5 separate regions of the Homo sapiens genome follow, and regions 1, 2, 4 and 5 are each reported to be linked to region 3. Evidence: microRNA targets listed by miRTarBase, many of them from high-throughput screens and not tested one by one. Region 3 holds a microRNA gene; each other region holds the end of a gene's coding sequence.

Evidence for each region. The annotated mature microRNA hsa-miR-4723-5p reads UGGGGGAGCCAUGAGAUAAGAGCA and lies in region 3 at 1,585-1,608, shown strand. An mRNA with a match to its seed (bases 2 to 7 or 8) in the 3' UTR can be bound and repressed. Matches are read on the target gene's strand: a 7mer-m8 pairs with bases 2 to 8, a 7mer-A1 pairs with bases 2 to 7 and ends in A, and an 8mer does both.
Region 1: the mRNA of SALL2 is a reported target of hsa-miR-4723-5p. Seed matches in the 3' UTR shown: 7mer-m8 at 1,875-1,881.
Region 2: the mRNA of MYH14 is a reported target of hsa-miR-4723-5p. Seed matches in the 3' UTR shown: 7mer-A1 at 2,153-2,159.
Region 4: miRTarBase lists ZNF562 as a target of hsa-miR-4723-5p. Seed matches in the 3' UTR shown: 7mer-m8 at 384-390.
Region 5: the mRNA of SPATA6 is a reported target of hsa-miR-4723-5p. Seed matches in the 3' UTR shown: 8mer at 1,520-1,527.

Annotation. Positions count from the first base shown.
Region 1 is chr14:21,520,106-21,523,105 of GRCh38, forward strand. It overlaps SALL2 (spalt like transcription factor 2), which reads right to left. Exons shown (of 2, transcript NM_001364564.1): 2 at 975-3,000. The coding sequence ends at 2,599. Among named protein-coding and RNA genes, the nearest start is that of SALL2, 4.7 kb to the right of the region's middle.
Region 2 is chr19:50,309,294-50,312,460 of GRCh38, reverse strand. It overlaps MYH14 (myosin heavy chain 14), which reads right to left. Exons shown (of 43, transcript NM_001145809.2): 43 at 1,921-2,821. The coding sequence ends at 2,671. It overlaps KCNC3 (potassium voltage-gated channel subfamily C member 3), which reads left to right. Exons shown (of 5, transcript NM_004977.3): 5 at 1-524. Among named protein-coding and RNA genes, the nearest start is that of KCNC3, 18 kb to the left of the region's middle.
Region 3 is chr17:28,359,076-28,362,228 of GRCh38, forward strand. MIR4723 (microRNA 4723) reads left to right here and starts at 1,579; the gene lies at 1,579-1,659. It overlaps VMA12 (vacuolar ATPase assembly factor VMA12), which reads left to right. Exons shown (of 6, transcript NM_152464.3): 3 at 240-329; 4 at 1,454-1,496; 5 at 1,660-1,772; 6 at 2,082-3,153. The coding sequence ends at 2,177.
Region 4 is chr19:9,650,121-9,653,287 of GRCh38, forward strand. It overlaps ZNF562 (zinc finger protein 562), which reads right to left. Exons shown (of 6, transcript NM_001130031.2): 6 at 1-3,167. The coding sequence ends at 2,829. Among named protein-coding and RNA genes, the nearest start is that of ZNF562, 23 kb to the right of the region's middle.
Region 5 is chr1:48,296,095-48,299,261 of GRCh38, reverse strand. SPATA6 (spermatogenesis associated 6) reads left to right here. Exons shown (of 13, transcript NM_019073.4): 13 at 369-3,167. The coding sequence ends at 549. Among named protein-coding and RNA genes, the nearest start is that of SLC5A9, 75 kb to the right of the region's middle.

The DNA.
Region 1 (3,000 bases), not on the chromosome of region 3:
TTTTCCAGGCATGTCTTGAACTCCTGGGCTCCAGCGATCCCACCCGCATTGGCCTTCCAAAGCGCTGGTATTATAGGCGTGAATCACTGTGGCTGGCCCTACCTGGGTTCTTAATCCAACTTTGCCACTGAGTGACTTTGGGCAAATCATTTTACCAGTTCCATCCCTTTAGCACTAAGAGTCAATGATATTATAATCTTACAAATCAGTCTCCTTGGACTCAGGTAATCCTCCCACCTCAGACTCCTGATTAGCTGGGACCATAGGTGTGCACCACCACATCCAGCTAATTTTTGTATTTTTGGAAGAGGCAGTGTTTTGCCATGTTGCCCAGGCTGGTCTCAAACTCCTGGGCTCAAGCAATAGGCCTGTCTTGACCTCCCAAACTGTTGAAGTTACAGACGTGAGCCATTGTGACAGGGAAAAAAAAATATATGTTTTATTTGACCCCACCCCTATGTGCTTCCTCTGAATTCCTAATGATAAGAATCCTCCTTTGTCTTGTTGGTAGAAATTATTAGGGTTGAATTACATTTTTTTCTTTCTGATTATGACATCAGATCTCAAGGATCATAAAGTTTAATTCACCTTGGTTCTACAGATTCGCTGATGTCAGAAGGCTGATCTGTGGTTTGAGAAAGACGGAAAAGAAACAGTTTCCAACCTCCAAACAAAACCCACAGAAAAGCCTGGTGGTGGAAGGTTCTAGGTAGAGAAAATCTAGACAATGACTGGACACAGTGGGCAAATGCCTACCTTTTGGAAATACAAACTCCACAGGGAACAATTTCCACAGAGAAGTTACATTAACTGAAGGTTGTCTTAGGACAAGGCTGAATAAAGTAAATATTTCAACACCATATGTTCAGCTTTGGCAGGAGATGTAGGTGGGAAGGGAATCTCAATTTTGGGGAATGCCCATATCACACCCCAGCTGGCTATGTAATCATGAAATAAGGAGAAACACATAAATATTTGGTTAAAACACCTTTAATGATAGAGGGAAAGACACTAATATCTCCCGTCTGTTCTTGACATTTTACTAGGTTAGGAAGCTCTGGAGCCTACAGCTTGAGGAGAAGCCATCGTTCAAGTCAGTCAATAGCAAAACCCTCACTCTCTCCTCCTCAGAACTCCTGTTCCAAATGATCCTATGTTAAGAGTAAATACTACAACTCATTACAAGACGGAGAGGCAGGGAGGACGCCACCTGGAGCTGGTCTCCCAAAGTCTGGGACTCTTAAGAACCAGACAATGACAAAGACACAAGCCCCAGCCTACGGATAGGCAAAATGGGTAGGGGTCTTGAAAGAGGAAGATAAGGAAAATACAAGGGGCCAGGGAATAAAGGAGGGAGTTATCTAAAACTAGAAGCATACTAGTGCTAGGAAATCCCCCATGATCCCTGGTACACCTCTGCACACTATGTCACTATTAGCCCAAAAGAATATTAACGAGAATGTCCAGACATTCACAAGAATTTGAGGCCTTTTCCCTTACATCATGTCCCTTTCTTAGTCACATAGGTACCAGCAAGCCCTATGTTCTAGCAACATTCCTTAACTCTCTCATCATTAGTTCATCAACCATGCTGACCAAAAATGCTCCTTAAAGATACGAACTTCACATTTCCCAAATATCTCCTGGGAGACCTCTTGGCAAGAAATCAGCTTGTTTCCCAACTTTGAGAGGTCATCATGAATGAGAAGCTGGAGAGGTCTTGGCACACTGACCAGCCAAAACCTTTACCTTAATGTGACCATCAGGGGATTTACTGGGAAAATTTTCCTATGCCCTTCCTTCATTTCTCCCTACTTCCTAGGGTTGGGTCACCAATTACTGGAGCATCTTCAGTACCGGCACCTTCTGGAGCAGGGGGAGGAAGAAGGAATGTACAGTTTGCTACTTCTTGTCTATGATGGGCTTCTCAGGCACTGCCTTGGGTGCAGGAGGCTGAAATAGGAGGGGGGCTGTCTTCTCCTTGGCTTCCCTGGATCCCATTGTTGGAGGCACCTTCCCAGCCACAGTTCCTAGGCCAAACAGCACTGGTGGGGCCAGGCTTGGAGTGGTAGTGGAGGTGGAGCTGGAATTCCAGGGCTTCATGGGCAGGCCATTTGACAGGAATGCCACATACTGGTTCTAGAAAGATAGGGGACCCATACCCACCAGCTGAGCAGAAAGGTCACCCCAGAGGAGTGGCACTGGGCCCTCCAGAGACAGCTGCCAGCCCTTTTTGGCTAGGCTGCAATGCCAAATGTAGGTGCTCAGGTGCACCTACCAAAGGGAAAGGGAGAGGAGAGAGGAGGGGGAAGAAGGGTCACACCAGGGAAGCTGGAGAGGGTTCCCCTTGAGAAAGCTGCAGAGAATCTATGTTCCTCAGGTACAAAGAATGAGGAGGGAAGAAAAATTCCTTAGGGGGCCATCCCCTTGTAAGCACAGTAATTTCCAAGCTCAGGGACTACAGAAAAGCCACTAGGGACATAACATGTTAAGAACTTAGAGAAAAAGACAAAATCAGGGCTCATAACTCTGGGAGGTCCTTTTGTGAAGCTGTTTCTGCTCTGTGGGACAAAGAGCAGCAGGTACAGAAAAACAGGCTCATGGGATCGTGGGGTCATCTTTTCGGGGAAAGGGGGAGAGCCCTGTGGAGGTGATGGAAGGCGAACAGCCAGGGACTAGAGAAAGAGCAGCAATATTCTGAGGGCCATGGGGGGCAAAGGGCTGTACCTGGTGGTGTGCCAGGAGCATATGCTTCTTGAGGGTAGCCCGCTCAAGAAAGCCCTGCCTGCAGAAAACACAAGTGAAGAGCGGCCCCTCCTTGGGGTGGGTCTTCTGATGCTCCTCCAGAGCTGCCTGGGAGGGAAAGGCCTGGCCACACACTTCGCAGGCCTTTCTGCTGCTGCTCTCTCCTGGCTCCTTTCTCATTGCCTCCTGCAGGCTCAGCTCCTCTACCAAGGTCACGCTGGTGGCTTCCCCTTCTGGGGTGAGTGCTGATGCCGG
Region 2 (3,167 bases), not on the chromosome of region 3:
TGCATGACGCGCCCCCCACACGCATGTCGCACCCCTCCTGCGCTCCGGGAACGCACGGACACGGGCCAGGGGGCGGGGCGATTGGGGAGGAATGAATGGCGGGGGGTCTTCCTGAGCTCCGCGGCTCACCCTCCCCAACACACACACACACACACACAGAGCAATAAGTTTCTCTCACTCAAATGTGGGCGGGGCGGGCCTAGCCTGTCGCTGGTGGGGGGAGTGGTGAGGGGGCGCTCTCAGGGATGGGGGCGGGGTTCGGAGACAGTGTGGGGAGGGGAGGTCTGCAAATCGTCCAACTCTGGTGCTAATGGCGGGTCTTCTCAGCCCACCCGCAGGGCAGGGAGGGAGGGGTCGGCGTGGCCCCTTCCCCAAGCCTCCCCCACGCCCACCCTGGGTGCATGAACCGCCCAATGCAGAAGCTGCCGCATGTCACCCCCCTCTCCCCAAAGAAAAAGTGTCATGCCCCCTTCCCACCCACCCTCACTCCCCACCAAAATAAACGTTTCCTTTTCATTTAAAAATGGCCTCCTGTGTGCCTGTTCGGAAAGTCTCCTGATTGCGGCTGGGGCGCACAGAGGGATTGGGACTTCTAGAGTGGGGCCCTATTGCTGGGCACAGTGGCTCAGGCCAGTAATCCAAGCACTTTGGGAGGCCAAGGACGCAGGAAGATCGCTTGAGGCCAGGAGTTCAAGACCAGGCTGGGCAACACAAGAGAGACCCTGTCTTTACAAAAAATAAAATAAAATTAGCCAGGTGTGGTGGCATCTGTAGTCCCAGCTACTCTGGAGGCTGAGGCGAGAGGATCGCTTGAGCCTGGGAGGTCGAGGCTGCAGGGAGCTATGATTGTGCCACCGCACTCCAGCCTGGGTGACAGAGTGAGACCCTTTCTCAATTTTTTAAAAAAGGGGAGGATGGGCTTTGGTGATCGTGACATCTGCTCCACGGCTTGCACCTTATTTAGGGCAAGCACCTGCCTCAGTTTCCCTGATAGTAAAAATGGGGATCCACACCTCTAACTGAAAAGTCACTGAGGACTCAGTCTGACGAACGTGAGCCCCCACACGAGGGTGCCTAGTTCCCACGAGAGAGACAGACCTGGGTCCCCAAGGTGGGGTCAGGGGCTGAGGGCTCAGCCTCTATATGTGCTGACTCTGAGGCCAGACTGTCTGGGTTCAAACTGTTTCAACTTCTTAGTAGCTGTGTGTCCTTGGGCAAGTCACTCAGCCTCTCTGAGCCTGTTTCCACCACTCTAAAAGGGTGGGAGGGGCATCACTTAGTTATTCAGCAAATATTGAGTGAATGCCTGCTGTGTGCCAGACACTGTTCTAGGCACTGGAGTGCAATGAAATCTCTACCTGTAGTGCTATGTAAGGGTTAAGATAAACTGTGTGCTTAGCACAGCACGCAGCACAAACGACCACGGCTGTCTTTTTGTTTTGTTTTGCTTTTGGGACAGGATCTCACTCTTCACCCATGCTACAGTGCAGTGATGCAATCATAGCTCACTGCAGCCTCCACCCCCTGGGCTCAAGTGATCCTCCCACCTCAGCCTCCCGAAGCACTGGGATCACAGGTATGAGCCACTGCAGCAGGCCTGTCATTTATTTTGCAAAACTTAAGAGTTGGCCCGAGTGCAACACCCCTTCTAGCACTCACTGGGGGCGTGGAGTGAGGGATGCTGCTGCTCTGAGACTGTTCCCTCATCTGTATAATGCAGGGAATATTTCCATTATACACTGGAGTCAGGAGGAAAGGAGTTATGAAGCGCCTGATCCACAGGATGTCCCTGTATACCCACGCAGGTGTCATTCTAACCAGCAGGCTGCCTGACCTGCTGCCCTAGCAGGCTGAAGCAGCCTGTGCCCATCCTGCCCCATCAGAGACCCCCTGCAGGAACACACACAGCCACAGAGATGGTCCAGTCGGGTTGGAGTTTATTTCTGCCAGAGCCTGGAGGCTGGGAGGGTAAAGGACACTCCTTTAGTCCCAGAGGGAAGCTCCGAACCCTCAGAGCAACCAGAAGGGAGGGCAGAGCATGGGCAGCAGCAGGAGTGAGAGGGGTCCCCTTGTCCTGCCCCTTTGCAAGGGTTCAAGGCTGGTGGAGGCCTGGGGCTTCTGTCGCTCAGGAGTTCAGGGGTGGACGCAGAAATGGGGGAAGGAGAGTGGCTACGTAGAGAGTGAGAGCGAGATTCCTAAAAAGATGCACAGAGAGACCCTCAGAGAGGCCAAGAAAGATGGTGAGAGGGTAGGGAAGGAGAGGGAGGGAGAGAGAGAGAGAGAGAGAGAAGCAGAGGGAATGGGTTGCACTGGCTGAGGATGGTGGAGGAGCCGTCTCACTCCCTTCCTAATGTCTATAGATCAATAACGAGGGAAGAAAGGAGGACAGGGAGCTGATGGAAACACAGCTTGCCAACTGTACCCAGTCCCCCAACAAGCAAGGTAGCTCCAGTCATTGCCTCCCTGCCTGCCCCGCTCCTCTGTGTTTAGGGGTCATCCTTTGATGGGAGGTTGCAGGGGACCCAGGTGGGGGTGATAAATGCCAGAGTGCTGCACCATTTCCAAAGGGCAAGAAGTCAGAGGGCGGGGTTCCTGGGACAGGGGCCCGTGGGGTCCAGGGAGGAAGGGGGCTGGGCCCCATCTGTTAGTGCATCTGGGGACAGGGTAGGGTCACTGGGGGTGGGCTGGTGGGGACCCCTCAGGCTCCGGGGATGGCCCAGACCCAGGCTGTGCTTCCTCTGCCTCCTCGTCGGATGCCACGCCCTCCTCTAGTCGGAAGACCTGGCGCACCGTGCGGGTGGTGAAGGTGAGGGGGCCGCGTCTGTGGGGAGGAGAGACCAGGATACAGAGATGAAATGAGGGGAGGGGAGGGGAGGAGAAAGGGGGAGGAGAGAGAGAGATGAGGGGGAGAGAGAGAGAGATAGGAAGAGAGAGAACAAAATAAGGGGGAAGAGAGGGATGAGATCAAGAGAAATGGAGGGAGACGGGCAGAAGCAATGGGGGGCAGAGAGAGATGAAGGACACACAGAGAGGAGGAAAGGAGAGAAAGGTGGTGGTGCACGGTGGGAAAGGAGGGCACAGAGATGACAGGGAGAAATGGGTGTGGGAAGAAAGAAGTTACCTGGATTTGGCTCTCCCGCAACACAGCCGCTGCTCCCACAGCCCCA
Region 3 (3,153 bases):
CTTGAAAAATTGTTTTTGAAATCTTTGGGATCTGGGGGAGCCAGATATTGTCCTCCCCATCAGCTGTTTGGAAAATTGAGATCAAAAAAAAAAAAAACAGTTTCAAAGCACTGGAGTTACGACTAGTATGTGGGTCTCCTGATACCTTTAGCAGTGCTTTACCCCTGGAACCAATGATTGTGATGTGCTTTCTAACAAGCTGGGAATATCATTCTTCTCATTTGATTTTTCTGCTTCAGAACCCAGAACTAGTTGCCCGGCTGGAGAAGATTAAGATACAGCTGGCCAATGAGGAATATAAACGGATCACCCGCAACGTCACTTGTCAGGTAAGGACATGCTCTTCAGTACGTGGTCTAGGTAGCCCCTCAGAGTAGGGCCCTGCAGTGGAAGAAGATACAGAGTTTAGAAAAAACATGGAAACTTGGTTTCTATACTGTTCAGGGACCATAGGAAGTCTGCATACAAACAACACAGTTCCCATCTCATTCACTGAGACTCTGGGCTGAGATGGTGACCAAGTTTTAAACGTCATAGAAGTGGGAGTTAGCCGGGCACGGCGCTCATGCCTGTAATCCTAGCACTTTGGGAGGCTGAGGTAGGTGGATCACTTGAGGTCGGGAGTTCGTGACCAGCCTGGCCAACATGGTGAAACCCCGTCTTTACAAAAAATACAAAACTTAGCCTGGCGTGGTGGCGGGCACCTGTAATCCCAGCTACTCGAGAGGCTGAGGCAGGAGAATCACTTGAACCCAGGAGGCGGAGGCAGAGGCTGCTGTGAGCCAACACTGCACCATTGCACTCCAGCCTGAGCAACAAGAGCAAGACTCCATCTCAAAATAAATAAATAAATAAATAAATAAGTGGGAATGAATCTTGGAGGCTTTTTTTCTTCTTCTTTTTTTTTTTTGAGATGGAGTCTCACTCTGTCACCCAGGCTGGAGGGCAGTGGCAGGATCTCTGCTCACTGCGGCCTCCGCCTTCCAGGTTTAAGTGATTCTTATGCCTCAGCCTCCCAAGTAGCTGGGATTACAGGCATGCACCACCACGCCAGGCTAATTTTTTGTATTTTTAGTAGAGACCACGTTGGCCAGGCTGGTCTTGAACTCCCAGCCTCAAGGTGATCCTCCTGCCTCGGCCTCCCAAAGTGCTGGGATTACAAGGTGAGCCACTGTGCCCAGCCATTCGAGCATTTCTTCTGACAGGGCTCCCTACTACTCTATGGCATGCTCCTACCCTGGAACAGGAGAGTAGATGGGTACTGGCAGCCTATGTCCTCTCTCCGAAATGCCTGCTCTGTAGTCCAGAAAAGAGTCAAAATGGTTCCAGACAAAAGAATCCATGGGGAGGGCAGAGTTAATATGTTGGGGAATAGAGAGGGCTGAGCCAGACTGTCAATGGATGCTCTCTGAGCTGCTTCTATTCTGAATCATCTTCTTTTTCTTTTTCCCAGGATACAAGACATGGTGGGACTCTCAGCGACCTGGGAAAGCAAGGTGAGGTACTAGGAGATCAGGCTTCTAAAACCTTTTCCTGAGATGGGTCATGACACTCAGGCTTGTTGTTTGACTGAAACCCAGTTGGTGGGGGAGCCATGAGATAAGAGCACCTCCTAGAGAATGTTGAACTAAAGGTGCCCTCTCTGGCTCCTCCCCAAAGTGAGATCATTGAAGGCTCTGGTCATCACCATCTTCAATTTCATTGTCACGGTGGTTGCTGCCTTCGTCTGCACTTACCTTGGAAGCCAATATATCTTCACAGAAATGGCCTCGGTGAGTAGGCACTGGGCAGGGCAGGGTGCCCCTGGTGGGGGTGTTAGTGGGTAAGGGAGGACGTATGTGAAAGTGCCTTGCACAGGTTAGGTATTGAACAGATATTTATGCCATTAATAAGGGGAGCATTAGAGCTTTCCAGCAGTCACGGGAGGTTAGGTAATAACCCCAGGAGAAGCCACATTCTCTTTTCTTCCCCTCCCCCAACTTAGAGGGTGGTTGGGGGGCTCTCCATCCTCATTAAAGTTGCTGGGGTACAGAGCTGGTTGTTGGCCTGCATCCCTTAAGCCTGGTTCTCCCCATCTCCAGCGGGTGCTAGCTGCATTGATCGTCGCCTCTGTGGTGGGTCTGGCCGAGCTGTATGTCATGGTGCGGGCAATGGAAGGCGAGCTGGGAGAACTGTAACTGGTGCTTCATCATCAAGTCTAGAGAAGACTTTGGGGGCTTCAGGCTCCAATTGGCAGTCACCGACTCAGTCAACCCATCAGACTTTTTGTATTCAGCTCCAGTTAGTCAGAAGACCAGCCCAGGCCAGCTGCTGTTTCTGTGGGGAGCCCTAATCTTCTGTGAATTTCCAAAGGGAGCATTGGAGGAGATTGAGATAACACATCTTTAAAACAGAAAGAACTGGTCTTGGTCTATCAGTACCTCTTCCTGAATCTGGTACCCATCTGCCTTCTCCAGTTCATTCTAAACACTGCTGGGACTAGGGTTTTTCCATCAGGAGCAAATGGAATCCAGGCCTTCCCAGAAGTAGACCATACTGCCTTGAACTTGTCCATATGTACAAACTGATCACCAGCTTTCTCCATACATTTTTAATGCAGACCTGTAATTGAGTTCAGAAGCCTCCAAGAAAACAGAAAGGATCCCCTTTCTCCAGTTTGTGCTGGAAGAGGAGCTGATCAGAGACATCAAATAAGAGAAAGATGGGTTGCTAGAGGATGGTAGAACTGGAAGCAAGGCAGCTACCTTTTTGCAAAAGGAAATGGTGTTAGGCCCCTTTTCCAGAAGATAAGACAGACTCATAGAGATTAAATGATCACTATGGTCCTTCTTCTGTTAAATGGAGCCAAAGACGCCTATGTTGTTCTGAAGTCTTGTAATGTTTAACTTCTGAGAACTTAGATTAGTGGTGTGATGATAGAGTCTGTATAACGCATTGAAAAGGGTATCAGGCTTAGTTATTTATCCAATAAATATTTATTGTATGCAGGGTATTCCTATTTTAACTCCTGTGACAACACAAAGCATAGCGATTTCCATAGTTCTAACTGTTCAGGGTCTGCTCCTCCTGGTACACTCTTTTTGGTTCACTGTATGTACTCCTGTTGTCTTTTTTTTTTTTTCCAAAGCACTTTTCTGTTTTCATAAATTATAT
Region 4 (3,167 bases), not on the chromosome of region 3:
GCATATCTCACCAGAACTGCAAAGACAAGTATGCTGGTATTACTACTTTTAGTTGGTGTTGTGCAGCGGGTTAAAATCAGTCCAGTAAAGCAAGAAAATATTTAGAGAGAGCTTCATCATCATACGAATTTTGGGGGTCATTGTTCAGTCCAAAGTACTTAATATGATTCTTTTCTCTTTCCACATAGAGAATCAGATAATCTATAAATAATGACTCTTACTGTTCCACTTTAGGAGTTAGGTATACATACATATGTGTATATATATGTATATATATATACACATACACACACACACACACACACACACAGTGACCCCCCAAATTTCATATGAAGTTCCAAACCTCAATGTGACTGTATGTGAAAAGAGAAGGGGGCGGGGAGGGGGGAGACCGACCGACCTATTTGTTGGTCTCCATCGTGTGAAAACATGAGGAAGTGGGCACTTACATGCCAGGAAGAGAGCTCTCACTAGAGGTTGACCATGCTGGCACTCTGATCTCAGACTTCCAGCCTCCAGATATGTGAGAATATAAATTTGTGTTTTGGGCCAGATACGGTGGCTCAGGCCTGTAATCCCAGCACTTTGGGAGGCCAAGGCAGGTGGATCACCAAAGGTCAGATCTGACCAACATGGAGATCAGCCTAACCAACATGGAGAAACCCTGTCTCTACTAAAAATACAAACTTAGCTAAGGTTTGTGGTGCATGCCAATAATCCCAGCTACTGAGGGTGAGGCAGGAGAATCACTGGAACTCAGGAGGTGGAGGTTGCGGTGAGCCAAGATCATACCATTGCACTCCAGCCTGGGCAACAAGAGCAAAACTCCATCTCAAAAAAAAAAAAAAAAAAAAAAAAAAAATCCTGTGTTTTTAACCTCATTGATTTAAAATTAAATTAATTTCTAAGCCATTTGGTCTGCGGTATTCTCTTATGGTTGTCTGAGCTGACTAAGGCAGATATTGGTACTGAGAAGTGAGGTACTGCAATTAAAAACAAACAAAAAAACTAAAAATGTGAAGCAGCTTTGAAACTGACAAATGAGTAGAGGCTGGAAAAATTCTGATGTGCAAGCTGGAAATAAGGTTGGTAAGGGTTATTCTGGTGAGGTGTCATTGGGGAATGAGGAACATGCTATTGGGAAATGAAGAAAAGACAACCCTTGATATAAAGTGGTGAAGAACTTGGCAGAACTGTATTCTAGCATTTTACGGAAGGTAGAGCTTGAGACAGATAAAATGGTATGTATCACTAAGATCTGTAATTAAAGTGTTAAAGGACACAGGAAGCTTCATTATTCCTGAGTGCTTACAGGAAAATGTGCTGGGAACAGGCCCCCCAAATCTGGCCATAAACAGGCAATGAGAAACTGGCCATAAACAAAATCTCTGCAGCACTGTGACATGCTCGTGATGGCTATGACGCCCATGCTGGAGGCTGCTGGTTTACCAGAATGAGGGCAAGCAACACCTGGCCCACCCAGGGCAGAAAACTGGAAAACTGCTCAAGGCATTCCTAAACCACAAACAATAGCATGAGTGATTTGTGCCTTAAGGACATATTCCTGTTGCAGATAACAAGCCAGAGCCTGTCCCTTTCTTTCTCATAAGGAATACTTATAGCTGATCTACAATCTATAGGAATAATGTTTATCACAGGCTTACTGTCAATAAATATGTGGGTCAAACTCTGTTCAAGCTCAGCTCTGAAGGCTGTGAGCCCCGATTCCCACTCTGCACTATATTTCTGTGTCTTTGTCTTAATTCCTCTAGAGCCACTGGGTTAGGGTCTCCACGACCCAGCTGGTCTCGGCAAAAATGCAAAAGGAGACCTGAATTGCAGAAGAAATTGTTAAGGAAAAAGGAACCAGAACTTGGAGATTTGGAAAATTCTCAGCCTATCCATACTGCAAAAATTAGAAAACTTGTACTGAAGAGAATCCTCAAAGTGTGGCTGAACAATCATTTGATAAAGAGATCATGAGTGGGATTCATGGACTATATCAGCCATCTTAACAGAAGTGAGAAGAGAGACTGGATTATACTATAAGAGACACTGCCACTTACATTGTGCCACCTAAAATGGACAGAGAAGACAGAACAGAACAGTCAAGGTTGTCACACTTCTTATTTTACAAGAAGGGGACATAGAAATAATCAGCTGTGAAAGGGCACTGGCAGTTATGGATGGTTTCACTCCTGACATGCTCTGCAGGATCCATGGGAACAGAAGAGAACCTTGGAGGAGCATCTTTTTAACAATCCACCTCTGGGGCCTACATCATCTTGGCTTCTGGTAAATTTTGACATGAATGTGCCACACTGGCAGCCACTAACCAACAGGGGCTGGGATCAATCTGCATGATTTATCTCGTACAGAACTTGTTAATGCTATGATCTTAGGAATCTAATCACCAAGGTGAGGCAGCCTGCAGTACTGACCTCACCATCCATGACCCTTCTTCACAGATGCCCAGACTCAGGTAACCATGATGTTGTATTCAGAACCTGTAGGTTTAATTTCAGACCCTCGGGATGCATCTAAGGCCAATCTGTGAGCCATTACAACCTCCAAAAGGCATTTAGGACTAATCTGATGATCTTTGCACTGCCAATAATTAAAGATGGCAACCAATGGGCTAAATGGTAACAACACTCATATCCTTACATTCATAGTATTTCTCCCCAGTGTGAATTCTTTCATGCATACTTAGGCATGAGGAAAGAGCAAATGCTTTCCCAAATTCTTTACATACAAAAGGTTTCTCTCTGGTAGGAGTTCACAGGTGGGGTGAGGAATACAGAAATTCTTTCCCACATATCTTGCATTTACCTTTCTCCACTGTGAGTTTTCAAATGTTTACTACGATGGGAAGAAGTAATGAAGGTCTTCCCACATTCAACACATTCATAAGGCTTCTCTCCTGTGTGAATTCTTCTATGTTGAGTAAGCGTTGAAGATCTATTGAAGGCTTTCCCACATTCCTTACACTGATAGGGTTTCTCTCCAGTGTGATTTCGTATGTGTATAGCAAGGCCCGTGTACTGAGTGAAGGCTTGGCCACATTCCTTACATTCATAGGGTTTTATTCCAGTGTGAGTTCTTACATGTTGAGTAAGGTGAGTTGATCTAGTGAAGGCTTTCCCACATTCCGTACATTTGTGTGG
Region 5 (3,167 bases), not on the chromosome of region 3:
GATTATAGGCGTGAGCCACTGTGCCTTGGGCTGTGCATTCTTATACTGGCCATACCAGGCCAGTATAAGAACTGCTTTTATTATGTTCTGCTTTTATTATGCTGTACCTGTGTCTGTTCTCTGAATTCCTTTTTCACTCTAACACAAAATTTTCATTTTACTGTTTTATAACAGTTTTACACAGATACTTCTGCCTCCCCTTTTAAAATGTCCCTCTTTGAAAGCACAGGCCTTACTCTGTTTTATTTTTCACAGCCCCAGCAGAGAATTAAATAGCCATAGAGTACTCAATAAATATTTGATTTACATAGTACTATCTCTAATTTTGTTTCATTATTGTTTTGAACCTTTTATATCCCTTTTTATAGCTCATGTCAGCAGCCACGTGGCACTTTCCATTTGGATGACGGTGAATACTGGTCCAACAGGGCAGCCTCTTATAAGGGAAAATCCCACCGACCCATCTTTGAGAACAGCATGGACAAGATGTACAGGAACTTATACAAAAAGGCCTGTAGTTCTGCTTCACATACACAGGAAAGCTTCTGAGACCATCCATGATAAACCTCATTAGTGTCCGTGTCAATTTCTCAATGAAAATGTTTGATGTGATCAATATCTGTATTCCTTTTTTTAAAAAAAATGGGATTATAACTAAGTACAATAGTTATACTTGAATAAGTTCATTACTTCAAATGGTAAATTATCATAGGCAAGCCTTTTAAAATAATTATTACAGAAGAGTCTGCTGTGTTACAAACATTAGAGCTCTGTCACACAATCACAACTTCCAATATGTGACAAGGATATTCTGTTACATGTACACCTCATATTCCATCTGCAAATCCAAGAATAGTTCCTTTCTAGAAATGTTTTTTTTGCCTTACTCACCTTGCAATTTTCTTCTCATCTACTTAACTGGTTATCTTGCCTGTGTAAGATTTAATTAATATTGACTACCTTTTCTTGGTGATGAACAAAATGATATCCTATACAGAAATGAATTTCCTAAGGGTTTAAACCCTGTTTTCACTAACATTTTCTACTTTTTCCTTTTTCAGAACAGGCTATTCTATTTCTTAGCTCATAGGCTTTCTTTTTAAAGACTATATGATCATTCACTCCTTTTTCTCTGGAAGAACTGTGTAAGTTGCTTAAAATGCATAGCAGTTAGCTAGAAATATCAGTGCCATGGATGATCAAAAATTTGAATAACTAATTTTTAAAGATAAAATTCTTTGCATGATTTTTTTTCTAGGGCCATACCTTTTGGTGCAACCAGAATCAGAAAATGGCCTCTGTTAGTAAGCTTATAGAAACCTAAAAATAATAATGGAATTATATTGTAATTTGACTGCTTGGAATTTGTGTAAGTACCATATGGCCCAAGGCACTATTATAGTATCCTCACTTTAAAAAAAAAAACACTTGGAACCACAATGTGAGTAAAATATTATAGCAGAACGCTTTGTGGTAGACACTGAAAATGTTGTTGATTGATGGATAGAATTAACTTCTCCTCCCCCACCCCAGCACACACCTGTGAAGCCAATGATACTATAAAGACATAAAGAAATCAGCTACTTTATATTTAATAGAGAGTGAGGGGAGGGAAAGGAGAGTGTAGGAATAAGTGAACTGGGCTTATAGTCTTGAAGAGTTGCCTAAAAGATAATATTTTCTCATTGACTCTGTTTTTGATTAATTTTACAGTTATGATTGAAAAAGAACAAAATGAACTTCCTTTAAAATGAAATTAAAATGTGAAACTTGCTGACTTATTTTTGTAGTAGAACTTGTTAACATCATGTTAAGGGTGCTTTAGTATCACAGTCTGTGATATATCAGAAAGGGCATTAGAGCTATCTCTATGAGCCAGGAGTCCTAGGCTTTAGTATCCCATGTCTGCCGTTTTCTAGCTGAGTCTATTTAATTCTCAGATCCTTTGTTTCCTCAGCTATCAAATGATAAGAATGTAGTAGACCCCAAACTATGTTCTGTGGACCAAGATCACTGTTTTAGGAGATAATCGTAGGAATGTAGGTATAAGTATGTAATTGGCCATCTAAGTTTAGGAAAATCTGTTTGCTACACACATACACACACACACACACACACACACACACACACACACACCTCTTAGAGAGTCATATGTAGGATTATAGAGGTAAAAAGAGATGATATTAATGCTGGAATAGCGCCTGTAAACTGGGGCTGTCTACAGCAAATTAGGATATATGGTCACTGTGCTCATTGTGAACAGTAGCTTGTTCGAGGCTTTAAGAAAATTCTGGTATAAATCTGTCTTACTCTGCATCTAGTAGACAGCCTGGCATGTAATTGATGTTCCTTAAATATTTATCGAATTAACCCAGAATTTTCTAAACTAAATTTAGCATGTACCACTATTTGTTATTCTTGCCACCACCCCCCATTCCCCTAGCTCCTCACACTACCTGCCAATGTCATCCTAAGGTACATGTGGATACCTAGGTTGTAGAAATGCTGGACTACACAATTGCTGAGTTACTCTCTGGCTGTAGATTATATGATGAGGTATTTTACAATCAGCTTTTGAAGGTCAACATTGAATAATGCTCTTTTAAAAAAATTATATCCTCAGTGTTTTTCCATGGAAAAATAAGTGAAAATTCTTTTAAGAGTTGCTGTTTGGTGAAAAGAACAAACATGACTTTCAAAGAAAATGTTTTACTATCACCAAAATCTCCCAAGTGAATAAGTACCACAGAAATTACTTATTGCACCTGTATCTGCCATTGGCTGTGAAAAAGGCTGCAAAAAGTAGGGCTGAAAGGGAAACTTTAGAAACTAATACTCTGAAAGATGTTTTCCTATGGATTAAATTTAGTGTCTTTCTGAAAGTTGGGGGCAAATTCCCAGATACTAATAGCATCTTTGCTAAGTGTCTGATTATCTTCTATCCCCTAGGAGGAAAGAGTGGTCCATGTTGCTGTAACTACTACTATGAGTGCTTATGCTGTATTGTTTTTAAAGAGTAAAACCTTTAAGTACTAATAGTTGTCTTTTCTCATTCACAGGAGCAGAAAGGTGCAGTTGTTTATTCTCTTAGCCTTTTTTTTTTCCTGTATTTCCCACAAATCTAGAAATAATTATTGGAGTTAATATGAAAGATAAATAGGCTTTTC